Homo sapiens: one gene and its partners. The protein of the gene in region 2 interacts with the protein of the main gene of each other region in a biochemical or structural test. Each region holds a gene or a part of one and is shown on either strand. Other genes may lie near its edges.

Evidence for each region.
Region 1: of the proteins of RPTOR (region 2) and CILK1, one has a biochemical effect on the other in vitro, tested with the Homo sapiens proteins (one study listed by BioGRID).
Region 3: the proteins of RPTOR (region 2) and RAP1B form a complex in vitro, tested with the Homo sapiens proteins (one study listed by BioGRID).
Region 4: of the proteins of RPTOR (region 2) and NLK, one has a biochemical effect on the other in vitro, tested with the Homo sapiens proteins (one study listed by BioGRID).

The regions. Positions count from the first base shown.
Region 1 is NC_000006.12:53,016,086-53,024,960, forward strand, and holds part of CILK1 (serine/threonine-protein kinase ICK), read right to left. Parts: intron 3,275-8,875; coding exon 3,142-3,274; intron 2,417-3,141; coding exon 2,245-2,416; intron 166-2,244; coding exon 1-165.
Region 2 is NC_000017.11:80,959,575-80,967,480, reverse strand, and holds the end of RPTOR (regulatory-associated protein of mTOR), read right to left. Parts: intron 7,404-7,906; coding exon 7,276-7,403; intron 6,088-7,275; coding exon 6,001-6,087; intron 5,021-6,000; coding exon 4,904-5,020; intron 4,554-4,903; coding exon 4,424-4,553; intron 3,220-4,423; coding exon 3,151-3,219; 3' UTR 1,113-3,150; downstream 1-1,112. UniProt on the Homo sapiens protein: Component of the mechanistic target of rapamycin complex 1 (mTORC1), an evolutionarily conserved central nutrient sensor that stimulates anabolic reactions and macromolecule biosynthesis to promote cellular biomass generation and growth.
Region 3 is NC_000012.12:68,606,450-68,615,217, reverse strand, and holds the start of RAP1B (ras-related protein Rap-1b isoform 1 precursor), read right to left. Parts: upstream 4,320-8,768; 5' UTR 4,175-4,319; exon of another isoform or gene 4,166-4,174; intron 1-4,165. UniProt on the Homo sapiens protein: GTP-binding protein that possesses intrinsic GTPase activity. Contributes to the polarizing activity of KRIT1 and CDH5 in the establishment and maintenance of correct endothelial cell polarity and vascular lumen.
Region 4 is NC_000017.11:28,190,802-28,196,881, forward strand, and holds the end of NLK (serine/threonine-protein kinase NLK), read left to right. Parts: intron 1-219; coding exon 220-418; intron 419-1,318; coding exon 1,319-1,412; intron 1,413-3,780; coding exon 3,781-3,835; 3' UTR 3,836-5,580; downstream 5,581-6,080. UniProt on the Homo sapiens protein: Serine/threonine-protein kinase that regulates a number of transcription factors with key roles in cell fate determination. Positive effector of the non-canonical Wnt signaling pathway, acting downstream of WNT5A, MAP3K7/TAK1 and HIPK2.

The DNA of each region.
Region 1 (8,875 bases), on a different chromosome or scaffold from region 2:
ACTAGCTGTTGGTCGTTTCTTGGGATCCCACTGAAGCATGTCTCTCAGGAGCTGGACTGCTTCACTGCTAGCATTGGGAATCAAGGTCTTTAAGTTATTGGGTACACACTGTGGCCAACGGAAGTTCATTGCACTTGAAAGTTGATAGCCTTCAGGCCAGTCAGTCTGAAAGAAGGAAAAGATAGAAAATCTTGCTCAGCCAATTGCTGTGATATAAGTTTGTATTCTGGCATGTGTGCCCCAAATGGAAAGGCAACCATGTCATTACCCACCCACATTCATTAACCACCCACATTCACTACTGTGGCACTGTATGGAATGAGACATAGATTTAGATTAATAGAGAGACCACCAAGACCATGAAATCTGGGGGAATAGTGGAAAAGACACTGGATTTGCCAACTTAATTATCTTTACATAAGAGATTCTCTTGAGATTTTGGGATTGAAACAAATTAATATTTCCCCAACTGTGTTCCATGAGACAGAGGTTCTGAAAACTGCCAATGAGATATTCTTTTGGGGAAAACAAAATAAAACAAAACATTTTGTTCCTGGACAAATAAATTTGTGAAACTCTACCTACAGTATCTTCAACTTGGTGATTGAAAGTATACATGTGGAGAAAACCAGCAGTAAAGAAAGGTGTTTCACCCAGTCTCAAGCTTTCCACTTTTTCATGCATCATTTCTATGGGACACTAAATGCTGGAGGGAATGATGGAAAATGCTAAAGAAATGGTCTTTAAGGTTCCTTCTAGTTCTAACACTCTACTATTTTATAACATACAGCCTAAGGTAATTGTTCCTCCACTCCTTTTTAAAGCCAAGTGGCAATACATATAGCTTTTATCGTTCATTCACTTGACAGTTCTGGAATGCCTACTATATGCTTAGTGTTGTTGGAGATCCAAAAATGATCCAATATAAATCCTGCGCTTAAGAGTATTACTGTTCTTAAAAGAGAAAAGAGCATTTATTTAAAAATGGTATAATGCAGAGTAAAAACTGACAAAAGCTGCAAGAGATGTGCAGGTACAGATATGCAGAGGAGAAAGATTCCAGCATTGGACTCAGGAAACTTTCTTGAAGAGGTGGCATTAATAATTCATTCAAATGATTAAAAAATTTTTTTGAGGATCTAGTTTGCACCAGCAATGGTGCTGGGACCTGGGAAAATAAACATACAGCAAATCCTTGTCCTGAGTGAGCTTATGGTCTAGGAAACAACTATGTACGCAAATAATAATATTAATAACATAGGACACAGCTGAAGATGGGGAGGAGATTAGAGAAACAGTGAGGAGGGGGATTACTGACGGCCATGTGACAGATATCACTCAGGCAGAGGGTGTTATGTGCAGAGCACAGAAGCAGGGAAATTTCAGGGCATGCAGCTGTTAGGTGTATAGGTATGAAGTGAGCGATAGGAATAGGAGTTATGAGGCTGGGCAATGGGGAGTCAACCAATACTTTTATGAGGGGAAGTCAGTACCAGAGCTGTTCTTTAGGAAGCTGAATCTGGCCACAGACTGAACAAGAAGCCAGAGTGAAAATACTTCAAGGCAGAAAGATGGGGAAGATGACATTAGACACAGGGGGGTGACTGTGGTCCAGTCTGTAATGGCAGCAGTGGACTTGAAGGAACAAGAGCCATGTGGCAATATTCAACAGGATTTACCCACCAACCGCTTAGATGAAGGGAAAGGGGAGCAAGAGAAAGACAGAAGGTAAAGCTGAAATTCAGCCTCAAGGTGGGGGCTCTGGGATTATGATCAGACCACAAATGAAAATGGAGAATGAAAGAAGGAAGCTAGTAGGGTGTTAAACAAAAGGCAATGATGAGTTTGAGGTGATGGTGAGGGAGTCAGGAGAAAATCCCATAGAGCGTTGTAAACATGTGAGTGTAGTAATAATGGAGGGAGGCAGCGGCTAAGGATTACATTCAGGAGACTTCTGAACAGGCGTAGGAGTTGTAGCAATGAGAACTGAGAAGTTCTGCAAGGGAGGTGAGATGATACAGAGAGGAAGGCAGAAGGAGCCATGACAGATGTCATACTTAAGAACAGGAGGAGGAAGAGAAGCCGACCGTATCTGAGAACGTGGGCAGTGGAGAATGACTGAGGTCAAGAGAAAGAGCCTAGAATGGGCAGGTGCTCAATCATGCCAGTGCTGAACAGGGCTGAGCGGAGGAAGCATGGGAAGCTGTTGGCTTTGGCCCACTGGCCTTTGTTTTGTATCATTACCTTTTTTGGTGTCCCCAGCACTTGGCAAATTTTGAATATTGTGTCAATTTCACTGGCTCCAGGGAAGAGTGGCCTGAGGGTGTAAACTTCTGCCATGATGCAGCCCACCGCCCAGACGTCAATGGGGGAGCTGTAGTTGGTAGACCTCAGGAGTACTTCTGGAGCCCTGTACCTGGAGGAACAAAGGTTAACTGCTAGCTATTGCTTCCACCACTCAGACATTAAATTAAATAACAATCAGTTCTCAGTGAGGGGGTGTATATGTTCCTATTTTCTCTCTAGTTCACTGTGGTGTAATGGAATTGTGAGAACTTGGCAACTGCCGTGGGCTGCTGTTGACAAGTAGTGCTTCTCTAGTTCACAATATTTTCTACTGAGCATTTCTCTACAGGAGACTTCTCTATGGCATCTTTGAGAAACACAGAGAAAGTAAGAATTAGGAAAAAAGAGAGAAAAGAGAAAGTGGAAGGGAAAAACTAAGAGAGAAAGGAAGAGGGAGGAAAAAACCTACAACTTGTGTGTAGACTACTTGGTCATGGCAAACTGCTTAAATCAAATTCCCAGTGTCTCAAAGTTTTCACAATAGCAATTAGATGGTTCTCAGACAGGTCTTTGCAGAATATTTTACATAATTCTTTTGTTAAGCTGTCCTCAGGAAGGCCTATATATAAAATTTTATTTACATTATAGAAAAGCATAATAGGTTTTCTTTTAACATGATTTAGAACACAAGATTTTTAACCTTGTACATTACCAACATATCTATAAATATATGTTTCAGACTGCACTGTTTCTCTTAGTGAAAAGTTAACATTTGTGACTTTAATATTATCCTTAGCATAATGATATCTTTTTAAAGAAGTGCAATTAAATAATTTTGAGAAAAATGGTATTCACCATCTGGTAGATACATAATCTGTATATGGAGGTTTTGATCGTATTTCTCGGGCCAAACCAAAGTCTGCAATTTTCACAAGTTCTGGTCCCATGCAGAGGAGGTTCTCAGGCTTTAAGTCTCGATGAAAGAAGCCTATAGAGACAGTAGAGGAGAAGAAATCCAAATGCAAGTTTGCTTCGTATTATTCTTTGCAATTGTATTGCTCTCTGCAAAATAGTTATAATTTAAAAAGTAGTCTGGCATGGCACCAAAGGCTTTATGCATTCATCCCACAGATAATGTAGAGTCCTTCGAACTTCTCATAGGATTACTACATTCATTTCCCTTTGCAAATCATTCAAAGGTGTTCTTCATAATTTTTTTTAACTAGAGAGAAAATTTCTTTTAAAATATCAAACTGGATTATAGGCTGAGATAACTTTGCAAAAATAAACTGTCACTCAAGGGAAAAATATCACTGACGGCATCTCATTCTATTGCCTAGGTTGGAGTGCAGTGGCACAATCATAGTTCGCTGCAGTCTGGGCTCAAGTGATCCTCCTGTCTCAGCCTTCCAAGTAGCTGGGACTACTGGCACAAACCATGGTGCCTGGCTAGTTTTTTTGTTTTTTTTTTTTTTGTTTTTGTAAAGATAGGGTCTTGCTCTGTTGCCCAGGCTTGTCTTGAACTCTTGGCTTCAAGCTATCCTCCTGCCTCAGCCTCCCAAAGTATTGGGATTATAAGTGTGAGCCACCATGCCCGGCCCAGATAACTGTCTGATGGGAATTGAGAGTTTATACCACAGCAGAAACACAATTATAATTTTTGTTTAAGAAATAATTTATGAATATGACCTACTCATATCTGAGATTGTGGTGTATGTTGCAACATATGTTTAAATGTTAAGTACTTATTACTTTGCCTAGTGAGGAAGTACAATGGTACATTTGCAGCTCACATGAAAGGCAAAGATAACTCATTACGTAGGAAGCCTGTCTCAGCTATAGCAGAGCTCTGGAGGTACAGGCAGGAGATAGTCAACATGGCAATCTTCCAAGCTCACTCAAACGCCCAGTGAATTGCAATATATGTCTCTGAAAACCCCAAACCTCCCACTTCCTGAGAGTATCACCAACCTAGACATCATTTAATGTGGCTCCAAATCTCAATGGGACACCAATACTGGAAATACAACTCAGCTGCTGCTGATGCTATTATTTGTTACACATTATCATTGCTATCATTACAGGCTGAGTATTCCCTACTCTGAAAATTCAAAATCTGAGATGCTCCAAAACCTGAAACTTTTTGAGCACCAACCTGACACATAAAGAAATTGCTTACTGCAGCATTTTGGATTTCGGATTTTTGGGTTAGGGATGTTCAACTGGTAAAATATAATGTAAATATTCCAAAATCTGAAAAAATCCAAATTCAGAAACACTGCTGGACCCAAGCATTTCAAGTAAGAGATACTCAATCTGTATCAATGTTGTGAAAGCTGGATTCTAACTAGCACATTATGGGAGAAATTAATAGCCATCACTGAAGATCTACACGATTCCTTGACAACCTGTATGTTGACAACGCTCAAGTCTACATTTCTAATGTGCCTTCTCTACCCTTCTGAAGACATAAATCTCTATTTGGACAGCAACTGGATGTCACTATCATCCCTATGTTAACTTATCCAAAACCACTTTTGTCCTCTCCCAAATCATCTCCCCTTCCTAACCTTTGGATAAGATTTCTAGGTACCTTGCAGTTATGTTGGATCCATCCTTACCCAGTTATGAGATTGTGTCGTATTTTCTATCAAAACATCTCATATCAGCTAGGCGCGGTGGCTCACGCCTGTAATCCCAACACTTTGGGAGGCCGAGGCGGGCGGATCACTTGAAGGTCAGGAGTTCGAGACCAGCCTGGCCAATATGGTGAAACACCATCTCTACTAAAAATATTTTAAAAATTAGCCGGGCGTGGTGGCACATGCCTGTAATTCCAGCTACTCGGGAGGCTGAGGTGGGAGAATTGCTTGAACCTGCGAGGTGGAGGTTGCAGTGAGCTGAGATCACACCACTGCACTCCAGCCCAGGCAACAAAGCAAGACTTCGTTTTGGAGCGGCGCGGGGGGGTTGGGGGGGTAAATCTCATATCTGTCTCTTTCTACTTTCTCACTGCCTATGCCTGCATTGCCACTTTCTTGCAGACCTTCCTTGCTCCAGCTTCTCTCCTATAATCCTGACCACTTAAACACTATCTTTCCCTTGTCACTCTCTCATTCACCCACAAAAACCATCCATGACTCCTTTTTATATTAAACAGGGCTGAACTCCTTTCACTCTACCTAAAGAGAGAAACTTATTTTCCAACACTTATCAATACATGTAAAGTGTGCTCCAATCAGGTGCAACTCCTCATTCTTTGTAAGTTCACTGTACAGTCATGCACTGCATAACGAAGTTTCAATTAATGATGGACTGCATATATGATGGTGGTCTTATTATAATGAAGCTGAAAAATCCTTATCTAGTATTCACTATACTATACTTTTAATCATTATTTTAGAATTGTACTCCTTCTACTTACTAAAAAAAAAAAAAAAGTTAACTGTAAAACAGCCTGAGGCAGGTCCTTCAGGAGGTACCTAGAAGGCTTTGTTATCATGGGAGATGACAGCTCCCTGCGTATTATTGCACCTCAAAACCTTCCAGTGGGACAAGATGTGGAGGTGGAAGGCAATGATACTCATGATCCTAACCCTGTGTAGGCCTAGGCTAATGTGTGTATTTGTGTCTTAGTTTTTAGCAAAAAAGTTAAAAAAGTAATAATAATAATTTAAGAACAGTAAAAGCTTATAGAATAGGGATATAAAGAAAATATTTTTGTATAGCCATATGTGTTAAGCCAAATGTTATTATAAAAGAGTCAAAAAGTTAAAAAAAGTATAAGTTTATGAAATAAAAAGTTTCAGCAAGCTAAGATTAATTATTGAAGAAAGAAATTTTAAAAATTTAGTGTATCCTTGGTGTACAGTGTTTATAAAGTGTCCTAGACCTTCATACTCACTCACTGATTCACCCAGAGCCATTTCCTGCAAGCTCCATTCACAGTAAGTGCCCTATACAGGTGTACCATTTTTAAAAAAATTTTTTATACTATATTTTTACTGTACCTTTTCTATGTTTAGATACACAAATACTTACCATTGTGTTACAATTGCCTATAGTATTCAGTACAGTAACATGCTGTAGAGGCTTACAGTCTAGGAACAACAGGCTATACCATATAGTCCAGCTATGTAATAGGCTATACCATCTAGGTGTGTCTAAGTAAGTGTACTCTATGATGTTTGCACAACAACAAAATTGTCTAACAACACATTTCTCAGAACATATCCAGTCATCAAGTGATATGTAACTGTACTTATTTCCATTAATAATGTGCCCTTTACTCCTTTTTGTCTACATCAATCCCAACTTTTGCCATCCTCCAACACCTGTTTTGAGTTTCGCTTCTTCCATTATGCCATTCTAACATGGTAGCCTTCATTCATTCATTCATTCATTCTACCAACACATTTTCACTGAGCATCTGCTCCATGCCAGGCAACAGATTAGGTTCTAAGGATTCAGAAACAATGCAATGGACATGACTCTTGCCCTCATGGACATAATAGGCCCTCCCCTCTAACTCCAGTTGAGCTCTATCAACTTCAGGTATGTTAACCATTTTTTTTTTTTTTGAGACGGAGTCTTGCTCTGTTGCCCAGGCTAGAGTGCAGTGGCACAATCTCAGCTCACTGCCAGCTCTGCCTCCTGGGTTCACGCCATTCTCCTGCCTCAGCCTCCTGAGTAGCTAGGACTACAGGCGCCTGCCACCACACCCTGCTAATTTTTTGTATTTTTAGTAGAGGCGGGGTTTCACCATATTAGCCAGGGTGGTCTCGATCCCCTGACCTCATGATCCACCCACCTCAGCCTCCCAAAGTGCTGGGATTACAGGTGTAAGCCACCGCACCTGGCTAACCATTTTTTATGAATTAGACAGAAGCACTTTAAGGGCAGAGGCCACATTTATATTTCTTATGAATGCCTGGCACAGTGGCAGGAGCACTGTGGTCTCATAATATACTCTTGCTGATTGAACAAAGGACTTTCGTCTGTAGGGAACATTAAACAGCTTAATGTTAACACATCTACCTGAGCCAAGCACCAGGGTCAACTAGAGAGCAAACCAGAGCTGTGAGGAGGATGGGAGGGAGGAAACCCATGAGACAGCACTGAGAACTGAGAGAGAACAATGACCCAGTAGTGCAGGGGACAATGAGGGCTCAGAGCTGGTTGTCCTTGTGACAGAGGGAGTTGTATTAGTTGAATGAATGAATGAAGGCAGGAACTCTAGTAGGACTAAATCTATTAGTCAAGGTTGTTTTCCAAAGACTGTCACTGCCCTAGAGCAAAGGGAGGGTGATTGTGATGTGGTTATATGTGAAAATACACTAATTGCCATTATCATGGAAAGGAACAATATTTTAGTAATAGGACAATCCTCTCTGTTCATCATTCTAAAGACAACAGTACTTAATACTGGGTCAAGTTCCAAATGGATAGTATTATACTATGGCATAATGGCGGATCTGTAGGAGAAGTAGCTGGCATAGATGGACAAAGTGAATGTAATTACAGAGCCTAGAACCCAGTAAATACAGAAGGGGATGAAGGTATAGAAGTGATCAGATACATTCAAGAGGGCATAAGTGAGAGGAGGAAGTACTTCCTTCCCACCACGGGGTTGCTTTTATTTTCCACAATCCAAGGCATTGATGAGATCAAAAAAGTTTGACATGGGTTAAACCAGAGACAGGCACAGCAAGTTTGCTATTTTATAGCACATGCATACACGGGTTTGTATGTATATTGTGAAATATTTATGAATATATATTCCACTGCTCATTCTTTATCCTGCCATTGTACTGGTACACACCTAATGGCCTTCCTCATACAATTCCTTGAAATATCCTAGTGAACTTAATAGTAAAATAAACCAAAATTATACATAAGAACCAAACTTGAGGTTGTCAACTCAACAAATGCAAAGAGCATTCAGTATCAGTCAAGAATGGCCTTTAAAATGAATGAAAAGATTTCTGATATGGACACATTTAGATGCTTATGATCAGCCTAATTAAAGATTTATTCATGCCCACCACAGTGGGTGACATCTCTAAGACTTAGCATAACTGAGTCATTGTGTTTGGACCCTCTGTTCTTCAGAGCACCCTCCAGCTTGCAGAAGGCCTGATTGTGTGTTTCCATTTTGGAACTGGCTTAAGAATGTGTAAGGATACAAGCAGTGATTACAGTGATCTTTGGTCAACGCACCTGTGACCTCTGAAAATAGATGAATTGTGAGACCATGGTTTGTCTTCCTAAAAACTCAGAGTGTTCAAAACATTCCAGTGAAAAAAAGGAATGGCAAGCATCATTTTCTTACTCCACAGATGGGAAAACTGAATCATGGTGGCAGGGGGCGGTAGATGAATTACTCCCAATTCCACCAAGAAATGTGTCATAGCTATTATAGTGTCCAGCTCTACTCTCCCTTTCAATCCATATAGCTAAATCTTTTTTTTTTTTTTTTGTAAGACAGAGTCTTGCTGGTCGCCCAGGCTGGAGTGAAGTGGCACCATCTTAGCTCAATGCAACCTCCACCTCCCGGGTTCAAGCAATTCTCATGCCTCAGGCTCCCAAG
Region 2 (7,906 bases):
ACATGACCATCCCCACGGACCCTTGCCTCCCACTCGCCCCGCAGGACCATGCCCAGGCCCGTTGCCTCTGCTGTGGCTTCCACAACATTCCCCCTGGCTCCCAATCCCTGCACGGACCTTGCTGCTTGGGAAAAACCTCAAGGGACAGGCCATGACCTGCAGAGCAGAGTGTGATCTGGAAACGGGAGCCTTTCAAGAATTGGCCAGACGGGGACAGGCGTGGTGGCTCACGCTGGGAGGCTGAGGCAGGTGGATCACCTGAGGTCAAAAGTTCGAAACCAGCCTGGCCAACATGGCGAAACCCCGTCTCCACCAAAAATATAAAAATTAGCTGGGTGTGGTGGTACAGACCTGTAATCCCAGTTACTTGAGAGGCTGAGACAGGAGAATCGCTTGAACCCAGGAGGTGGAGGTTGAGGTGAGCCAAGATCGTGCCACTGCACTCCAGCCTGGGTGACAGCGTGCGATTCCATCTCAAAACAAAAAGCAAACCCAAAAAGAGTTGGCCAGAGGGATGTGCAGATGTGATTAGGGCTAAGGACCCACACAGCCCGAGGTGGGTACGGCCCCTAGGCCTGGAAACACTTCTGGCCTGCATGAGAAGTGGTGACGGTGGGCGTGGGTCAGAGGCCCTGAACTGGAGGAAGGGGCCACGAGCCAAGGAGAGTGGGGGCCTCCAGAAGTGGGGAGGAGCGGGGAAGCGGCTTCTCCCCCAGGAACTCTGACGTGGCCCAGATTTCAATGCAGACTTGAATGGGGCCTCTAACCGTGAGAGGATAACCGTCATTTTAAAGAGAAAGACACGTGTCTGGCCTACGTCACAAGATGGCTCTTGCCACACAGTACGCTCCCTGATGTGGGGTCTGCGCCACAGGGCTGGGGGCACTGCCTGGGAGAAAAGGACCGAGACCTTTGCACACTCGACGTGCCAGGCCCCCTGTGGCCACAGTGCCTGCCTGGAGAGCACCCGGGACGCAGAGCTGCTGGTGGCCCTGGGGACAGCAGGGGGGACCCGGGCAACGTCCCCCCACCCCCCAGAGCTCTGCTCTGACCGATGCCCCCCTGAGGTGGGGTGGGCAGTTTCCTTAAAGACACAGCCGCCAGCCGCGGAGTCTGCGCGTGTTGTTTACTGTTGGTCACTCTCTGCTCTTAGCTTCACATTACCATTTCGTGTTTTGTCAAAGTCCGTCTCAATTCGCGTTTGGTAAAATAAATAGATAATGAGCCTCTAGGCCGGCGCTCTCTCGAGCCGGTTAACGTCGTGATTGAATTTTCACATCAGACCTGTGAAGACAGCCCACGTGCAGGCGGCACGCGGTGCCCATGGGGGTGGGCTCCAGGGTGGAGCGGGGGCGGGGGGGGGTCTTGACCCCTCTGGAGCCACCTGCCTTTTGACAGGTGGTGATTTTGTCTCAAAACAAACAGAAACGCGTGTTGGGTAAGAATTGAGTTGAAGGACTGGATGGGAAGCTGCGTGTGCGGGTGGAGCTGGGCTTCTGGAAGATTCTGGTGTTGCCGCCTGGCACGCCCTGTGAGCTGAGTGAGGCCGGGACTCTCTACACCTTCCGGACCCGGGCTGCTTTCTCGGCCCAGACGTGGGGATGGGATTCGTGCCGGAACCTTCTTCTGGTGGGAGCTCGCATTCCAAAAAGGAGCAGCGGAGGGGCCGCCTCTGTCCTGCCTTGTCACGTCCCGGCCAGCCCCAGCTCAGTCTCCAGCTCAGCCCCCTGAGGGCCAGGTGTGTCTCTGGCCAAATGTGACCAGGCAGGGTTCCATCCACCCAGAAGATGCTCTTGGCCACGGCAGGCCACCAGCCACACCGCAGGAGAGCCGGGCCTCGCCACACCAGCTCTCACTCCCGTGGTCGTGGGCCTCTCACCGCCAGAATGAAGCCACCTGGCTCCTTCACCTCTCAATAATCCTGATTCCCGACGAACACGGAAAGAACACTTTTCAAAATACCATCATTGTGGTTGTGTTCTGTTTGCAAAACTGCTCATACACGCCCTGCGGCCCCTCCTGGGCGGGACTGTCCACACAGCTCCTGTCTGCACCACAGGCCCAGCTGTCAGCCGAGGTCGCATCAGCATGGGCGGCTCAAGGCTGGAGACGGGGCTGGTGTCACCCGGAGCCGTCCGGGACCCGGCAGTGCCTCTTGCCTGTATGTGAGGAACGTGTGGGGACAGAGCAGGGAGACCACGCCGCCTGCATGTGTGTGCCCCCAGGTGCCGGCCGTGGTGCCATCTGCACATGCGTGTGCTACACCTGTGTGAGGGCACAGGCATGGAGACCACAGGTCGGGCTGCTGTCCCCGCGCCTGTGGGGAAGAGCAGCCCTTCGGAGGGAAAGGAGCCCCGTGGATTAAGGCAGGGGCTACCTCGCCAAGGACCTGCCTCCCCTGTGCACCGCCACAGCGGCCCCTGCTGACAGCTCTGTGTGAGAGGGGCCAAAACTGGAGTCCAGAGACCTGGAGGTGCGGGGAGGGTGGGCTGTGCGCTTCCTGCTCAGTGATGCTGCCAGCGGCCAAGGACAGCCCGGACCCCTGGGCGGCTTCCTTCACACCCGCCAGTTGGAGGGGCGTCTCCTTCTTCCTCTCTCTTGGTTTCCCGAATTTCCAGTGTCCCCCAGCTGGCTAGGAAATGTCCCTGCTTGCGTGCACTGACTGTGAGAGGTGGTGGGCCTGGCTGGGGCAGCGCCTCTCGCTCGCTCTTGGCCTGATGGGGACAGCTGCCCCAGGGACCCGTAGGAGCCCCAGCGCCTGCCTCTCCGCCAGGGCTCTGTCGGGGGGTTTTTCTGCAGCTAATGCTCTGATTACATGGAAATAAAGTGAGGTGTTTCCCCTTTCAGCGTCTCAGAGAAACACAGAACAGGAGAGGGACAGAGGCGCCGTGGCCGCGGGGGTGCACCTGGATGCTGGTGCTCAGTGGGAAGCCACCGTCAACCCGAGCCCTCCCCTTCCCTGACATTCCAGACACGACAGCGAAGACAGACAAAAGCGAGTAGCAGGGCCCTCCTGCCGTCATCAGCAGCTAAGGCAGCAGCCAACGTTCACACTGCGGGGCCGCAGCAGCCGACGCCCCGTGCCCCGGCGAGTGACAGCTTCACTATGTACAGCAGGCGGCCGTGGCCTGGTGGGCCCGGGTCACGCCGCTATCTGACACGCTTCTCCACCGAGTACACGGAGATGTAGTAGTCGTTGCTTCCCACGGCCAGGTGAGGCTGCAAGGAGAGAGAAGGGGTGAGCAGGGGTTCAGGTGCGGGCAGACACTGCGGGGGGCGGGGGGGCGCAGGCCAACCCGCATCCTTAGGCAGCTCCTGCCGGGGTCTCAGGAACCCCCACGCCCACCTCAGGCCCGGAAATGCCGGGCCGGTCCCACCAGTCCTCTGCAGGGCCCATGCATGGTGCACTCCGTGAGGGGCGTGGCGCTGCCCCGGGCCCTGCGTGGTTTTTTCAGGACTGCCCCACGGGGCAGCTCTGGGATCCAATGTCACACGTGTCAGCAGAGCTACATGCCTGGAGCCTCACAACACAAGGCGGCAGGTGGGCAGAATCCTAATCTAAAAACAACGGCCTGAAGCCACGTGGGGAGGCTGCAACCAAGGCCAGAGAGCCGTGCAGGTGGGGCCCGGCCGCACAGGGGACAGGGTGAGGACTCGGCCGCACAGCGGACGGGGTGAGGGCCGCAGAGGGGACGGGGTGAGGGCCGCAGAGGGGACGGGGTGAGGGCCGCAGAGGGGACGGGGTGAGGGCCGCAGAGGGGACGGGGTGAGGGCCGCACAGGGGACGGGGTGAGGGCCGCACAGGGGACGGGGTGAGGGACGCAGAGGGGACGGGGTGAGGGACGCAGAGGGGACGGGGTGAGGGCCGCAGAGGGGACGGGGTGAGGGCCGCACAGGGGACGGGGTGAGGGCCGCACAGGGGACGGGGTGAGGGCCGCAGAGGGGACGGGGTGAGGGCCGCAGAGGGGACGGGGTGAGGGCCGCACAGGGGACGGGGTGAGGGCCGCACAGGGGACGGGGTGAGGGCCGCAGAGGGGACGGGGTGAGGGCCGCAGAGGGGACGGGGTGAGGGCCGCACAGGGGACGGGGTGAGGGCCGCACAGGGATGGACACCCCGAGCGACTCTCCTGGAGGTCCCCAGGGATGGCTTTAGTGCAGGGTCTGAGGGCAGGAGCTTTGCCCCAGCCACTGTGTGTCAATTCCTCCCGGAGTGACGGGACTGGGGCTCTGCTTCCGGGGCGAGTGCAGGGTGGGGCAGGGGCCCTAGAGATCCTGGGACCCAGGCAAGTCCCTCCCTCAGGCAGCCAATGGGCCCCACTGTGGTGTGGGGTAGCCAGGCAGGACCCCTGCTGCCTTGTCCCCTTGCCTCCCATCCCTCTACCCCAGCCCCCGACCCCCGACCCCCACCCACCGCCACACTGACCCAGTGCGGGTGGAAGGCCAGGCAGCTGATGGCGCCGACCCGCTGGCCCATGAAGCCGTCGTAGTACTTGATGTTGTTGATGAGCTCTCCGCTGCTGTTGTAGATGGCGGTGAACTGATTGACGGAGCCACTGTGGGGAGAGAAAGGGTCCCGGCATCACTGCCCTCTTCTTTGAGGATGGAAGATGGGCGCAGATGCCGAGACCGCGGGGACAGGCCGGCTAGACCACGGGGACAGGCTGGCTCGGGGCAGGTGTGACCCTCTGGTCACTCTCACTGAGGACTCGGGCCTGGCAGGGCCCTGAGAGTTTATCCTGGGAGGATGTGGTGGGCAGACATCTTTTGTTTTTATGTCCCCACAGCAGTGAAATCCTCCCCTGCCCTCCTTCAGCTCCTGGGGGCAGGAACACAAGAGCCTCCCGTTTGCACAGAGGCCCGAGGCGGGTGAGCGGTGCAGGCCAGGGAGGTGGGTGGCGCCTACCATGCGATCAGGTCCGCCTGGGGGTGGATGTCCAGGGCCGTCAGCCCCTTCACGATCTGAAGCACATTTACCGACTCAGGCATCCGGGGATCAAAGATGCGCACATCTCCATTGACGCTGCCAAGAGAGGGTCACAGTGACACCTCCTCCCGGAGGCCCCATGAGGGGCCTGGCCAGGGGGACGGTGGAACCAGGTGTGTGGGGTCGCACACCTGTTTGCACACACACTGCTCAAGGAAAAAGCTGCCTGGATGCTCAGCGTCCCCAGTGAGGGCTGCCCAGGTGGGGCCCAGACATGCACCCATACTGGTCTCAGGGCCAAGGCTGTCCCCCACAAGCTCTCTCAGAGCCAGAAAAGGCGCGGAGCTTTCTGGCCTAGAGAAATGACCATGAGCACAGATGCGGGAGGAGGCTGTGAGCTCCTGGTTTCATTTCCAGCTAGAGATTAGATTTCATGCAACCGGGGCCTGCAGTCCCGGGAGACAGAGCCTGGATGGCAGGCTGTGGCCCGAGAGAGGGATGGCCTGGCCCTTTTGAGGCCCCGTGGCTCCTGCCTTCCACCCCCAGCAGGCGTCCATCCCAAGAGTTATGTTTGGTTTTTATATCACAAACAAGGGGGAAAAGAGCATCTCTTTGAAGAAATGCTGGCTTTGCATTCATAAATTACATCTTGCTCTTCCTTTAATAGGCAAATAAATATTCCCTGCTCTTGGTGCTGTATTTACCAAGAGGCAGAACTGAATTTATGTGCAGACAACTGCCACGTGCCTGGCAGACGCGCCGCCCCTGCCACCCTGCCACCCCTGCCCGTGGAGGGAGAGCAGCTGCCCAACTCCCCCCGGAACCCTCCGCAGTTGGCAGCCCAGGAAAGTTCCCAAAGCGCCTGCAGGTCAGGTGTCCCCCAGCAGGGGAGCAGCTGTGGCCCCTGGGCCCCTACGGGCTGCGCCTGATCTTTCTGGCCAGTTCCAGGGCAGGAGTTAATTACTGCCCGAAATGCCATCCCCTTCCAGCTGTTTAAATACCAAGGACGTATTTTAAATGGAGGGGAAAATAATGTTTTTACAGCAGAACGGCTGCTAAATATCGGCGCTCCTCACCTCACACTCACGATGTGGCCGTCGGGACGCTTCTGCAGGGAGGCCTTCACCACCCAGGCTGTGTGCTCCCGGTACGTCATGACGCGGCTGTAGGGGAGGGGGCACGCTCAGCGTGGGGCTTCCCTGAAGGACGTCCCCACCCTTCGGGGCTCTCACCGGGAGCTGCCCAGGTCTGCCTGTGCCAGCGGGTCCGCAGGCCCTCGCCCGTCCGCTCCCCACGAGGGGCTAGTGCTCACGCAGGGTCAGAGCCCCCTCCAGGTGACCTGCTCCAGCAGAGACCCCCTGTGTCCTCCCCAGGCTGGCTCAGGGCTGGGCCCTAGGTCACCGTCAGGCCGCTGGAGGACTGTCTGAGCCACATGGAAGCTGCCCAGAGACGGGGGCCAGGCGGCCATCGCAGCGCTCCCAGGCCCTGCCCACCCTTTGCTTTGCTTCCCTCAAAACTCCTCATTGTGTCTCCCCGATCTGTGCAGACTGGAGGGTCAGGAATGAGAATCCCAGACCTAAAGCTGATGAAGCTGGAGGCACAAGGACCTTCTGGGAATCCTCGCTCTGTGCTGGGTGAAATTTACTTCTGCTGCATGAGCCGTGTGGGCCAAGACGGACTGTCCCCTGCTAGGCCCGGACAGCACCTGCCCACGGGGGTGCTCAGCAGAGGCAGTGCCCGGGGCTGCTGTGCCCACGCGTGTGCCCTGTCCCCTGCCAGACATGGACAGCACCTGCCCACAGGGGTGCTCAGTGGAGGCAGTGCCCAGGGCTGCTGTGCCCATGCGTGTACCCTGTCCTCTGCCAGACGCGGACAGCACCTGCCCACAGGGGTGCTCAGTGGAGGCAGTGCCCAGGGCTGCTGTGCCCACGTGTGTGCCCTCAGACATCCCTCCCCAGACACTTGCTGCATGACCCAGGAGGTGGCAGGCAGTGGCAGTATTCTGTTCAGGTGAGCTCAGAGGTGGCAGGTGCCTGGCTGCGGCCCTGCCTCACCCCGACAGCCTCTGCCTCCAGTCCACTGGCTCATCCCACATGGCCTGTCCCCTGTGCTCCTCCATAGGCTGTGGGGTGGACCTCTGTGGGGCAGACCTTTGTGGGATGGGCCTCAGTGGGACGGGCCTGGCGGCTTTGGGGAGCCCAGGACTGGCCTAAATACGCCACTGCAGGCTCCTGGGGAAGCTTTGCATCTCACTGAGAAACCTGGACCCAACCAAATGGCAGTGACACGGCCCTACCACCTGGAAGGTACCCTGCCAGCACTCGGGGAGGGAGAGGACAGGGTCAAGGTACCATTCGCTGAGTGCCATCCTTCTGTCGTAGACGCGGATGGAGCCGTCACCGAGGCCAGCCACGATGAGTGAGCGGTGGGAATCACAGGACAGACTCGTCACACAGCTGTCTGCGCCCGTAGGGATGTCCTAGAGCCAAACACAGGCAGCCCGGTGAAGACCGGGGCACCGAGCCACCCTCCCTGCTGTCCTGCAGCGCCAGGACCCCTCTTGCTGCCTGCCTGGCTGTGGGGATCACCCTCCCTGGCTGCAGGGGCCTTTCTCTCTATCCAGGGAAGCATCAAAGGCCTGGGGAGCCCAGGAGTCCCAGGGAGAGGCAGGGGCTGGCAGGACAATGAGTCACGCCCTTATCCCTTGGCCCTGGAGGGACAGCCCTGAGGCCCTGAGGCGCCTGGGACCCAGCCAGTGAGGCAGAGGCCAGCCCCACCCCGAGCGGAGGCCTGCAAACGCCTCTGGGAAGGACTGGCTGTCAGTGCCAATTAAACTTCCAACCTCTCTCTGTTTCCTAAAAAGGAAAGCAAAGCACATTTTGGCAAGGACTCCTCACTGGCTGCGTCTCAGAACTTCTAATGAGCTATGGGACGAGTCCAGGAGGGGTCATCTGGCTCCCTCGGGGGCTCTAAGTGCTGGAG
Region 3 (8,768 bases), on a different chromosome or scaffold from region 2:
AATCTTTCTAAATTACTGCTTAAATAATCAGTTGCTACTGTACCCTTGATTTGACCAACATTAGGAATAAATAGTCCAATGTTATGAAATACGGAATGTAAGTGATACTATTTTTTGTTGCTGGTGAATTTTAAAAAGTGATGTTTTTAAGGCAGCACAAAAGTTCCTGATAACTTTTCTTGTTTAAAATAGAAACTCTCCACGACCAAAGAGACTTGTTTTAGAATCCAGTGCTCAACTGGGTTCAAAGTACAACAGATTACATACAAATCAGTTTTTACTGCAAATGGATAAATTCATCTATTCTTTGTAGCTACTGCTTCCACTGTGCTTATGAGATTTACAAAGAACTTAAGACCTCAAATGGCAATTAGTACCTTTCAATACCATTGCAAAATAATCTATGAACACAGAAAAACACTAGCTTCCAGAGCCATGGTACAGTACTCCTGTTTACAGATGGCTGAACTAAAAATTTTGTCCAATGTTACAATGAATCACTGCATCAGCCAAAATGTCTTAACTTGTTCTAAAATTCAATTCAATTTGAAAAGGCTAACAAAAACTTCAGCCTAATCTCTTAGACCATGGAGTCCTCAATAATGACAGGAGGGGGAAGAAAACCCAGGGCATATTTTTAGTCACAACCTATGTCTCAGAAAGTTTAAGACAGACCAATCTTTACCTAACTTTTCTATAGAGTGAACACGTGACATCACTGCTATAAAACAGCAGTAAATAGCTAATTCATAAATGCTAAATTACTCCTAGTGCCAGTCAAATCTAGAAACTGCAGATCAATACCCAACCTCCTCTTTAGCAACACAAACATACAGAGAAACACAGTTATTTTACATCTTTAAGGAAATGAGGCAAATCAGTAAGATCTGTGTGATAGTCGATAATAAAACAGCCTATTTAAACAATACTTATGGGGAAAAAGTAAATGGACACCTTGTAAAATCGGTCAAATTCTCTGTATCAGATCCAATTTCAGATTAGTTTCACTACCTCAATAAATATTTATCGAGTACCTACAACAAAAGGCAAAAAAAACCTGAACGTGAGCTTTTCATCCAAATCTTGGACTGCATTTAAAATAACATGTCTAATCAGTTACCATGTTATCAATCTTTGCATAGACCTTCCACCAATCTTGAATTAGATAGGAAGATACAATTGAAAGGATCCTTACAAAAATGGATCTAGTTATTTTAATAATTAATTCTTTGCTATACCCTCCTTACATGGTAGCTCTTTATTATGGGAGGGGGTCACTTTACCTTTATACAGCTAAGAGAAAATATTGGAATTCTGAAAAGGATTGAGGATAAAACGAAAATTAATTTGTCAAGTAAAAGGGATTCCAAAGCCAATATGTAAATGTTTCTTTTTAAAGGATTACACTGTTCTCTTCAAATATCCTCTCTTTGAATGTTCATTACCATTAATCCCTAAATTCAAACGCTAACCATTACACTGTGCCCAGGCAACGCGCTACACTGTGCCCAGGCAACGCGCTAGGAAGATTACTGTGAAGAATGAAATGGATTAAGTCCCTACCCTCATGGTACTTACATTTAACTGGTGTTGAATGTCTATTGCAAGGCACCATGCCAGTGCGTTAAGGCATACAAAACAATATATATCTTGTGGTTGGAGTTCACAATTCAATGGAATAAATAATATAAAATGGTAACAGGAGGCAGGAAGTAATGCGTGTCATAGAAGGTAAGAGAGATGACTTTCACGCGGTCGTGGGTGAGGGGAGAATGTAAAAGAGAGCAGAGCAATCATTTTCTTATCTCCTTTTTTTTTTTTTTTTTTTAAGACAGGTCTAGCTCTGTCACCCAGGCTGCAGTACAGTAGTGCAGTCTCGGCTCACTGCACCCTCCGCCTCCCAGGTTCAAGCTGGTTCATTCAATGTGAACCTCCCAGGTTCATATTCTCGTGCCTCAGCCTCCCGAATAGCTGGGATTGCAGGCGCGTGCCACTACACCCGGCTATGTTTTGTATTTTTAGTAAAGACGGGGTTTCACCATGTTGCCCAGGCTGTTCTCGAACTCTTCACCTCAAATGATCCGCCTTCCTCGGCTCGGCCTCCCAAAGTGCTGGGATTACAGGCGTAAACCACCACGCCCAGCCAGAGCAATCATTTTCATGCCCCATACAACATTTTAAAATTAAGTCAGTTTAGCATTGGTTCTTCAGTTATATTTTGATACCTGGCATATTAAAAACAACAAACTGGCTACATGTGTTCCAATGATTTACTTTAGGACTTCCTTAGATAAGGCAGCTTCACGATTTATTGTCAACGTCAAACAAGGAAATGCAAGTGAAAACACCTAACGTAGTACACATTAAAAGCACAGATGAGCTCAAATAAGACTAAAGGAAATGCAAGTGAAAACACCTAACGTAGTACACATTAAAAGCACAGATGAGCTCAAATAAGACTATCATTCAGGCTCTGTGTGCTTAAAGTTATTTAATCTGAGTATCAGTTTCCTCACCTAAAACCTGAGGATGAAACTACTCAAGTGGTTTTTTCTCCTATTTGACTAAGGTACCCACTTTTTAAAAGTGCGATATGGGAAGAATATTCTTTGTAAGATGATAATTCACTATAAAAACGTTGTATTTCTTTCTCCATGTTGTCTCTTACGGATAGACTACTGTCCTAAAGGTCAGTGGACCCACTAACTGGTTATCTTATCTAGGCCTCAGTTTCCTCCTCCATAAAATGACAGGGTGGGACTGGATGATCTAAATAGTCCCTTCCGGCCCTTAAAAAGTCCCATGACTCCACTATGACTCAATAAATACTATTTCAAGAGTCAGCTTTTAAGAATAATATGGGCTTGAAGTTAAATGAATGTCTCCCTTTTCTATAAGTTACTTTTTGTTAAGATAAGGTCTTGTTGAGCAAGTCCAAACAGTATTCTAATTACGAAAAAAGAGAGCTGAAAAATAAATTTACAAGTCAGAGCTTTAAATTGTTAAGTACTCGACATATATGAGATGCTGCCTGCAAAACCAAAATCCAATTAGACGGAATTAATTTTAAAATACTAAAATCACAATCTTCATTTAGTGTCAACTTTCTACCCCGTAAAAATGTGATTTCCCCTTACTGCAACACAGAACTGCTTCTATTCATACCAATCAGAAGTTACAGGGCCAAAATGTTTTTCTAAACTATTAAAGAGAGTGGGAGAGGGGGGAAAGCGAAGGGGAAGGAAACCATCTGCTTTAACTTGCAAAAATGATCTTTTCTCCAAAAGACATCAGTGTTTTTCAGAAGAAAAATCCGGAGAGCCCGGTTCACTGGGCGTAGTTTTAAATAAAATTCATGGCGCTGATAGTTTTAGGATTAGACACCTCGAGATGGCGAAAAAGAGAAGAGGACAAACTTCCTGGATTTTCTCTCCCTCTAAGAGAAAGAGATTTCCTCTTGCTGACGAAGGGAAAGGCCCCTTTAACAGTTTTTCTCTACACGGTGGCTGCTGCCAGACTAAGTGGGGCTCTCTCCGCTGCCTTCCTCCTGCCACTTCCCGCAACAAATGGAGCAAGCAAGCCCCGTTTCAGGCAAACTTTTTCGCTGTCAGGCTCAAGCCCGCGGGGCGCCTGGGAGTGGTTTCCCCCGAAGGCTCCTCGCCCTAGCTCGGGGCTGGGAGAAGCTAGGTCTTCGCAAAGGACAACTTTCTGGTTTCCGTTCTAACTTCCACCCATACCACGGAGGGAACCCAGGCGACAAGCGAGGGGGCTCGGGGCGGGGAGCGAGTCTTCGGGGGAGCCGGCGGGGAAAGGAGGGCGGCGGGAGAAGCTGCGGCGGACGCGGGCTGAAGAGAGCGGGCGGGTGGGGGGGTCCTCGGGCTCTCACTTCCTCCGCCATATTTCAGACATTTGACCCCTTCCGCAAAGCGCGCTGTTCTCCCGCGGCGGCGGCGGCTGCTCCTCCTCGCCGGCCCGCAAGGCAGCGCGCTCGCGGGCCCGGCGCCTGGCCCTCGCGCCACCTGCCGCGCGCCGAGGGGCTGCCGCCGCCGGGGCCCCTGACCGCCGCGCCCGGCCCGCGCCTCGCCGCACCCCACCCGCTCCCCTCAGCCGGCGCCCGGCCCCGCGCGGCCGCCGCCGCGGCTTCCCTCAGCGGCCACGCACTCACTCTGCGAACCTCTCACGCTGTCACCGGGTCCCTGCAGCCAGCGTCGCCCCGCGCTCCCCCCGGGTCGCTACTCTAGGCGCCACGGCGGTCCTGCCGCTGCCGCGCCGCTCCGGCTGGTTTACACGCCTGAATCTGGGCGAGGTTTGGCGATGTCGCCTTGACGTCAGGCGTTCAGCCTCGCTCCAGCTTCCGCCCGCGGGCGGGGCGCGCGGGTGCGCGGCCCGGGAAGGGGCGGGCCTAGGGGGCGGGGCGAGGGGAGCCGAGGGGGCGGGGCCGCCGCGCGCCGGGTCCTCGGCGCCGGCCTCTAGCCGGCCTGCATCGCAGCCGGAGCGCAGGCCCTGCCCACGGGCCCCTTAGCTGCCTCTGGGCGGCATGTCTGCCGAGGTTCTTCTCTCTAGCTGCGCCGCGCCTTCAGGCTCGCTTCCCCAGGCTGTCTGGTGGGCGGAATCCGCGCGTCGGTGTTCCTGACCCTCGTGGGTTCCAGTGGAACCCTCCGAAACCCAAAAGGCGCCGCCTCTTAATGCAAACTGTAGTCACCGACTCGTCCAGTCTGTTGGTATTCGCGTCGTCCTTTGTGCTGGGCAAAGTAACCGAGAAGTAACGGAGAGCGCGCATTTTCTACACCTAGAGCTCCCCGAGGGAGCCTGGGCCAGCAAGTCTTTCCATTCTTGAGATGCCTTTTCTCCTGGATTGACAAGTGTTTTATCCATTGGTGTCTTAACCCGGGCGAACTCTTTCCAAATTCCCATGCCAAACGCAGTTAACAAATCGATGATTTCTAAATAAGTTTGTACCCTGCACCTAAACCAACGCCATTTATATAACTAAAATAAATTGCGTATTTAAATGCATGTCCTGGACGCTTTATTCACTTCACAGGATTACCCATAGGCAAGTAGGTTTATCGTGTGACTTCAGGGCACCAGAAAACACTTTCTGTTCCAAAATGCCTCGTTCCAAAAAGGGCGGGAACTTAACACGGGAATTTACCATTCTTACTTACCCTTAGTACAAGAAATTTATCAGAACTTTTTCTTGAAGCAGTTTTGATGGGCGAGGAGATTAAGAGAGCAAAGTGCAGGGAAAAGGGATTGAGGGGTCATTTAAGACTAACTTTCTTGGTTCATAATTTAATTAGGCCCTGTACAAATTATTCTTGAAATAAATCTTAATAAACGTTGATAAATTTGGAAGATAAATGGAATGTGACTAATTTCACTCCGTTTAAGAATATGTAGTGATTGAAAACTAAGCTAACCTAAGTTAAATGAATAGATGAGAATGAATTATAACAGTTCTCTGTGTTTTATAATGTTTTACAATTTAGGTTAATTGAGTAGATTACCTATTTCGATAATTTCTATTTCCTTAGAAAAATATCTTTTTAAAAATTGTTTATTGTCTGCATTTATTGTGTATACAACATGATCGTTTGAAGTAATGTATACATTGTTACATTACCTCACAGAGTTACCTTTTTTTTTGAGAGTCTTGCTCTGTCACCCAGGCTAGAGTGCAGTGGCATGATCTCGGCTCACTGGAATTTCTGCTTCTCAGGTTCAAGAGATTCTCCTGTCTCAGCCTCCCGAGTAGCTGGGATGACGGGCGCGTGCCACCACGCCCAGCTAATTTTTAGTAGAAAGGGGATTTCGCCATGTTGGCCAGGCTGGTCTCGAATTCCTGACCTCAGGTGATGCGCTCGCCTGGGCCCCCCAAAGTGCTGGGATTACAGGCGTGACTCACCGCGCCGGCTGAGTTAGCATTTTTTTTTTCTTTTTTGAGACAGAGTTTCGCTCTTGTTGCCCAGGCTGGAAGGCAATGGCGTGATCTCGGCTCACTGCAACCTCCGCCCCCACCTCCCACCCTCGGGTTCAAGCGATTCTCCTGCCTCAGCCTCCCGACTAGCTGGGATTACAGGCATGCGCCACCACGCCCGGCTAATTTTGTATTTTTAGTAGAGACGGGGTTTCTCCATGTTGGTCAGGCTGGTCTGGAACTCCCGACCTCAGGTGATCCGCCCGCCTGGGCCTCCCGAAGTGCTGGGATTACATGCGTGAGCCACCGCGCCTGGCCTTGAGTTAGCATTTTTTTATGAGAACACTTAACATCCATTCTTTAGAAAACCTTTTTAAATAAAAGTTTCAAAGGCAAATTTCAGAGCAGTCCGTTGGAATTACTGTAACTTCTCAATGAATGAGTGAATTACAAATAAATTTGACTTTACTAACTTTTCAGTTATTGCATAAAAATTTGATAACTGAAAGTCTGAAACTTTGAGCTCACAGAAGTGTTACCTGGGAACACTGTGCTTTTTCTTTCTTTCTTTTTTTAGAAAAACTCTTTGTCCTTTGGGCAATTGATTTTTTTTTTCCAGAAAGAAATTGGTTTTAGAAAATTGAAGCTAGAATTTTTAGAGTTTGAGAGAACGTGTAAAATAATCTATTTAATTAAAAACACAGTTTCTCTTATTAGACTGGAAATCATTGTTATTTGTATTAAACTGTTATCACTATGCAGAGAATACCATAATCTGCATCTCTTAACACTGAACTCACTTTTCAGTTTGAGCCTCTTTCCTATTTATTTCCTTGACTTCTTCTCCAGGATATTCCACTGGCAATTTGCACTGGTCATGTGTGCAAACTGAACTCATCGTCTTTGTAACCAAACCAGTTTCTTTTCCTCTTCCTTTGTGAATTGTATCACCATCTTTTAAATTACCCAATCTTCAAGCCTGATACTTAGCTCTCTGCTCTTCTTGAATAATCCATCAATTGGCATATCTATTAGATAGTAATTCGACAAGGTCTTTCATTGTGTTTCCTCTTTTCCATTTCAACTAAGACCATACTTAGTTTTTAGTTGCCAAATTTAGTTTGGCAGAACTCATCCCCTGGACCTTTGCAGCCTGGTGGCCTCCAGTCTGTTCCTGCTGTGATCCATTCTATACATTGTTGCCAGATGATTATCTTAAAGCATACCAAGCAAGTCACTCCCTTCCTCAAAGAGCCTTCAATTACTCCCCACTCTACCAAAATAAAATTAAAATCCTGTGTCTCACTTTTTCCTTTCACTCAAAACTGATTTATAGTCAGAATGGACAGTGGACTTTTCATCTGGCCCACATAATTTGCTTCCCCATCTCTCTGTTGTGCATAGGTGAATGATTTCCTCTGCCTGGAATGCCCCTTCCCATTCCATCTCATTCTGCAAATACCTTGCCCATTATTCAAGGTTTATCTACTTTCTCTTAAGAATGAGCTTCTTGGCCAGGCGCGGTAGCCTATAATCCCAGCACTTTGGAAGGCAGAGGCGGGCGGATCACTTGAGGCCAGGAGTTCAAGACCAGGCTGGCCAACATGGTGAAACCCCATCTCTACTAAAAATACAAAAATTAGCTGGGCATGGTGGCACATGCCTGTAATCCCAGCTACTCGGGAGGTTGAGGGAGAAGAACTGCTTGAACTGGGACCCGGGAGGCGGAGGTTACAGTGAGCAGAGATCGCACCACTGCACCCCAGCCTGGGCTACAGAGTGAGACTCCGTCTCAAAAAAAAAAAAAAAAAAAAAGAGCTTCTTTTCTGATACTTCTAACCTTATGTATTCTCTTCTCTTTAGAATCCCTGAAACATTTTATTGCTGCTTTTCTTTGTCACTTGTGTTTGACCTTCCTGTGAATAGGGATTTGCAAACTTTTTCTGTCAAGGGCCAGAGAGTAAATATTTTAGACTTTGTGGGCCAGACAGATGGTCTCTGTTGCAACCACTCAACTCTACAGTTGTGGGACAAAAGCAGCCATAGATAATACATAAAGAATAGACCTGACTGTATTCTAATAAAACTTTATTTATGGACACTAAAATTTGAATTTCAAGTAATTTTAACGTGTCACGAAATGTTCTTTTTTTTTTTTTTTCTTTTAGCCATTTAAAAATGTGAAAATCGGCTAAGTGTGGTGGCTCACGCCTGTAATCCCAGCGCTTTGGGAGGCTGAGGTGGGAGGATCACTTGAACCTCAAGAGCTGGAGACCAGCCTGGGCAACATAGTAACAAGTAAGACCTTGTTTCTACAAAAATAATTTAAAATTAGCCAGGTGTGGTGGCACATGCCTGTTGTCCCAGCTACTTGGGAGGCTGAGGTGGGAGGATGGCTTAAGCCCAAGTCGAGTTTGAAGTTACAGTGAGCTATGATCATGCCACTACACTCCAGCTCTGGTGACAGAGCAAGACCCTGTCTCAAAAAGAAAAGAAAAGAAATGTCAAAATTGTTCTTAGCTTATAGGTGCACAAAAACAGGGGCGGCCTGGATTTGGCCAGTAGGCCATAGTTTGCTGAGCCCTGTACTCAGGGCCAGCTTCACAGGCATATGACTCATGCATGCAGTTGTACAGAGCCCTGTACTTAGAAGGGTTCCATGATTGGTTTAATGCTCTAATGTCACTATCTTGATTTTTTGTTTGTTTTTGAGACGGAGTCTTGCTCTGTTGCCCAGGCTGGAGTGCAGAGGTGCGATCTCGGCTCACTGCAACCTCTGCCTCCCGGGTTCAAGCGATTCTCCTGCCTCAGCCTCCCTAGTAGCTGGGATTACAGGCGCCCACCACCA
Region 4 (6,080 bases), about 53 Mb from region 2:
TACTTTGTGATGGTAGATAATAACAGTAGTTGTCCTAAATCATACACTCCCTCTGCTGCTATGTTACCCACCTCTAAATTCAATTATCCCTCTTTGGACGGGATGTACTATAAATTATATATATGCTATGTCAAGCAGTTAATGTGTCTTTTGAAAGATCCTATGTGGACAGTCATTTTATCTGTAGTGTTGATGTGCTGGTCTCTAATTTGATTTCAGTCCAAAAGAATATCCGCTAAGGATGCCTTAGCCCACCCCTACCTAGATGAAGGGCGACTACGATATCACACATGTATGTGTAAATGTTGCTTTTCCACCTCCACTGGAAGAGTTTATACCAGTGACTTTGAGCCTGTCACCAATCCCAAATTTGATGACACTTTCGAGAAGAACCTCAGTTCTGTCCGACAGGTTAAAGGTGAGTATCTGTTTTGGCCTTTGGCCAGGCAATATGCCTAGTAACATTTTCCATTAGGTGGCCATGAAGAGCTGAGATCTGGATGGTAACCAAAGCTCCCCTCTATGTTTATTTTACAACCTTGCGTATAGCTGTGTGTCCGGGGCATAACAAAGCATATTTAATATTATATCCAGGGGAAGGTCGGGGAGAGGAATGAATATTTTGTTCTTATTTTCAAAGTTTATTTAGTGAGTATGACTCAAAATATGTTTAATATGTATTCACTCAGTGTCATTTCATTGATTCAAACGTATTGAACTTTATATAACATACAAAGTTCCATAAAGGATAAACATTCACTGAGGGAATTATTCCTTGGACGATGACAAGAGAAGGGAATTTCTGATAGTGTACTCATAAAATTTTGTGGCAGGATCTCCTATTGGAATACAGTGGGAGTAATGACATCCAAAATTCTGAGTGATTTTAGTGTCTACTGTAGGACATTTTACAAGAGAGAGAGTAGTCCCCAAAGTAACCACCTGAAACTATACACCTAGATACCAACTGAGGTCTTTAAGTGATCTTCAAAAAGGCAATAATTGCCAGCAACTTAGAAGAGTTCACCCATAATGCCAAACCTGTGGAGTCTCTCTCAAATTTATAGGCCATTTTACTCTTCCCACTGATGGGGTTGCAGTCTGTGTAATGCCACCAGTAGGTTTCTTATATTTAGCAACAGCTGTCATTTTAGTTTTAGGAAGTTCAGCTGAATTCTGCTTGATAGATGATGTGTGTGTTTGATTTAACTAAACCAGTAGGCAGTGCTTTTCAGATGCTGGCTAGAGTTCGCTGAGAATTCACTGCTCCCGGGCTTGCAAATTGTCATGGATTGTATGATGTTTGTTTTCTCCACAGAAATTATTCATCAGTTCATTTTGGAACAGCAGAAAGGAAACAGAGTGCCTCTCTGCATCAACCCTCAGTCTGCTGCTTTTAAGAGCTTTATTAGGTAACTATATGTATGTAATTCAACATTCTTGTTAGAATTAAAAGGATGCCAGTGTTACTTCATTATTCAGCATATTTGTTTTTATTTAGATAACATAGATAAAAGGTGCAACAGAAAGTTTCTGTTATGAGGTTTGGCTTTAGTCAAAAGTGTATTAAAACTGTAAGCATCTGGGCTGGGCGCGGTAGCTCATGCCTGTAATCCCAGCACTTTGGGAAGCCAAGGCAGACAGATCACCTGAGGTCTGGAGTTCAAGACCAGCCTGACTAACATGGAGAAACCTTGTTTCTTCTAAAAATACAAAATTAGCCAGGCATGGTGGTGCATGCCTGTAACCCCAGCTACTTGGGAGGCTGAGGCAGGAGAATCACTTGAACCCGGGAGGCAGAGGTTGCGGTGAGCCGAGATCGCACCATTGCACTCCAGCCTAGGCAACAAGAGCGAAACTCCATCTCAAAAAAAAAAACAAAAAACTGTAAGCATCACATTTTACACTGGTGCCAGTTCACTGCGGTTGCTTTGGCAATTTTTTCCCCGGATGACCATTGTGCTGCCTCATCACATATATGGCAGTCCTGCTGCAGCATTAGTATGGTGGCCACCTGTCCTGGAGTTAGACGTGGTCATCTCAGTTCCCACTACCATTCTCACTCCCTAGTAATAACTGCAAGCAAGAAAATAATTTTTTTGTGTGTAGGTGGACTGCTGGTGTAGCCTATTTAGAGGAGAAGTCAAAAGGCATATGGTAGAGCTATGAACCTACATTGGAAGTTACCAGGCTTCATTCTCCTTGTCTGTCTGTCCTTTCCTTCTCTTGATTTCTTTTTCCTTAACTCCTTATATATTGATCAGGGTCTAATCGGGAGAAATAAACCACTTCCCTAGAATACAAACGGGGAAAATTCAGTAATAAGAACTGTTAACTAGGAAAGATGATCAACTGCTAAAAGGCATAAAAGAGGATTCTGAAGGCTGCTGAAGTAGCAAATGCAGAAAGCAGCCACTCCCTGTAGACTGAGGGAGAGTAAACAAGAAAGGAATTAAGAATTTAGAAGAGGTTCCTCATGTAAGGACCTCTTTGGAGAGGGTATGGCTGCCACAGGAACTGGAACACACAGCACGAGGGTGGTGCAGAAGAGGAAGTGTGCCAGAAGGTGTGGCCAGAACTGGTCCATCAAAGACTGCCTGCCAGGAGAGTTCGGGTGGACCAAAGCTGAGCCTTCCACATGACCAAAAACAGGCACAACAAACCAAGGAAGGGAGACTGCTTCCTGATGCTACAGCCTTGCAAATGCCCTTCCAGCACCCTCTGTTGACAAAAGCTAACATTAAGCTAGGTGGCAAAGGGGAACCATGAACAGGGTCTGGCTCCAGTATCACAAAGCAGGACAAAGGGTGGATTCGGATATGAGTGGTCACACAGTCTCTATCTTCCCCGCTGCCTTTCTCCTCTCCTTTTTCTCTCTTCCTGCTGCCCTTTCCCTTTAATCATATTAAAGTTGGTTGGATTTGTTGGACCACAGTCAAGATTTTATGCTTAAAATTTGCAAAATCAGGTGACTTTCATTTCTTCCATGTATTTTTCTATTGGAAGAAGGAATTAAGTTGCACTTTTACTTATCTGTGGTTTTAAATTACTTTGTTTTACTATTTTCCCCTAAGAGTCAGTGACCCAGTCAGTTAGGCAGTTTAGCAGCTTAGGTGCAAATGATCCTGGGCCTTGGGGAAACAAGGGGTTACACTTTTCCCTCTCAAGTTTATAATCTAATTAGCAATCTTAGACATAGGAAAAAGCCAATAACAGATCTAGATCACCAATGCTAAATGATTACCTATACTTCTCCATTAATACTTGATAAAAGAATGCTTATAAGGCCCATTCAAAATAGGCCACTGTATTTTGAGAGGCTACTTTTAAATGGATGATTCTACATCCCTTAAGGTTATTTTCCTGATTGATTATTGAAATTATTACTTGTAATACCTACATTTACTTTACACTTTGAAGTAGGCACTGTGGAAAATACTTCACATCTATTATCATTTATTCATCCCAGTATCCTATGAGGTAAACAGCATTATTTCTTTCCAAATGAGAAGAGATTAAGGCACTTGCTCAGGGCCATACAACTAGTAAATGACATGTGGTTTTCAAGCCTACATATTAGCCACTATACCAGATTGCCTCTCCATAGATAACAGGTCCATAAACAAGCAACTTAGAATAAATTCAACTTCAAAGAAACAAATAAAAATCCAGAAGTGGAATTAATTTTTTCAGAGGAAGAGAGGAAAACAGGAAGTAGTGAATTACCCTTTTGTCCATTGTGACATTACAACTAATTTCTCCATCTCTGTTTTCTTCCAGTTCCACTGTTGCTCAGCCATCTGAGATGCCCCCATCTCCTCTGGTGTGGGAGTGATGGTGGAAGATAATGTACTACTGAAGATGTAATGTAGCTTTCCACTGGAGTCTGGGATTTGCAATTCTGGAGGTTAATCATGCTTGTACTGTAATTTTACTAATGAAGTTTTAAATTAACAACCACTACTTGTATGATATGAATAATATTTAGAAATGTTACTAGACTTTTAATCTTGTAAAGTGGTTGTGCTTTTAGAAGAAAAATATTTTACCCAGAGTTGCACATGTTTTATGAATTTAGTGCAGCTGTTATGGCTCACCTCAGAACAAAAGAGAATTGAACCAAATTTGGGAGTTTGGGGTTTTATGTTTTGTTTTTCTTTTCTAAAATGAAGTGAGATTGTTCACACACACACACACACACACACACACACACAAACACAAAGGACAGTCATACATTTTGATATTTGAGCCATTCCTAAAGATTTGGGGTTTTCTAAAACTAAAGAATCTAGGAACCTTGCCTGCGACCAATCATGGAGCCACGTGAGCTGATCGTGGCTGCACCTGGGGGGAGGGTAGGGAGGAGGGGCATGCCACCTAATGATCAAGCCCTATAATTAGCTTCTCATTAGAGCCGTGATGGTGATGTGTGCTGTCTAAAATCCAATGTTGTGGGTAGAGAGAATGAGTTTGTGACTAGGAGAGACTAAACTTTTGTTTTCCTTACCCAGTATAAATATATATATATATATTTAATCTATTTTTATTAGAAGTTTTTCTGCTCTTTCTTACATAAAAGAACCCCAAGCATGCATCTTTCATGTGTGTAAATAATTCATTTCTGGGCTAATTTCAAAAGAATCCCAATATTGCTGTATAGAAAGAGAACTAGCTTGCACATTTTAGGTCTGTGAAATTTTGTGAGACTTTTCCTGCACTGGACAGTAAAAAAATAATAAAAGACAAAAACAAATTTAAAAAAAAATTTAAGCCACAAAAAAAGGCACATAGGGAATTATGTCAAATGTGTTTGTGTCCTTAGGCAAAGCTGTGGGAGTCTTGAAATGTCACAGTAGTAAATAACTTATTACTTTTTGACAAGTTCTTTTTTTCTGTTGGAACACTGAATTCTTCTGTGCATATGTACATATGAATACAAATCGAAGGCCTCTACCTCCTGGAGTTATACAACTTGGCTTGTTTACCTCCACATGCTGATGATGACTATTTTTTTTTTTTGAGTTCAGTGTGGAGACTTGAAACTTGAATGTCCCTTCCAACTTTTATATTAAAAATAAAAAGACAAGAAAATTGAAGATCATTTTTCACCTGTACAAGGAATACTAATGGATCGTCTTAAAATTGGTCTAGGAAAAAACCTTGGTGTGTGTTATGGACAATTAACTGTTAAAGTTATTGTAAGTTATCTGTATTTAGCAGAGTATTTTCAACTTGAGTGATCTGAGCTGAATTTGAAGACTATTAATAAGTTATGTTTGGAAGTTTTAACTTCAATGAAGTAATTATTTGCTGTGAAAGAAACAAACATTGAATTACTAAACAAAGATGGTGCAATATCTTTGTTTTTTTTTTATGAGGCTCCTGAGAATCAACCCAACTGAAGCATTTCAATTCACTTGAATGAGAAACGTGTTTAGTATCAAAAGAGCCCAAGAAGACACTGGTGTGAAAGGTACAATCTCAGAGGTTGGTCAATTACCGTGGCACACTTTCTGGTCACTTTGTACAATGTAGATTTGAAGTACAGTGGTGAAAACATTAAATGTGACATTTGAAAAAGATGTGTCATCTGTTTTATTTCAGTTTCTTTCCTTTGTTTTCTCTTCAGTACAGCTCGTATCCTGACTTTGCAAAGTTTTGAGACACTTCCTATTTATATTTCCACTTTGATCTTTGAGGAAATTGGTTGTTTTTAAAAATCTTCTCAAAAACTTTAGATTGACAAAAACATATTGAAAATTTAGTTAAATCAATATCAAAGATGTGATTTAAATATACACAATAGAGAAGTCTTTTTAGACCTTGGAGTCTCTAATCCAGTGGTTTTCAAACTTTTTTTTCTTTGAAGCAATATCTTGGAGTCCAATATATTAAATACATAAAAGTAGATTGCTCTGTATGAAGCAGACTGGTAAAGGGACTTGACACCTCCCTCCTCTTCACTTCTGCCTCCTGCCTCTAGCAGCCCAAAGGTACTTTCAGCTAAGGAAGAAGTCCCAGCCCAGTGGTGGTGTAATCAAGGCCTGAAACCAGACTGCCTGACTTCAAAATACTTTCCC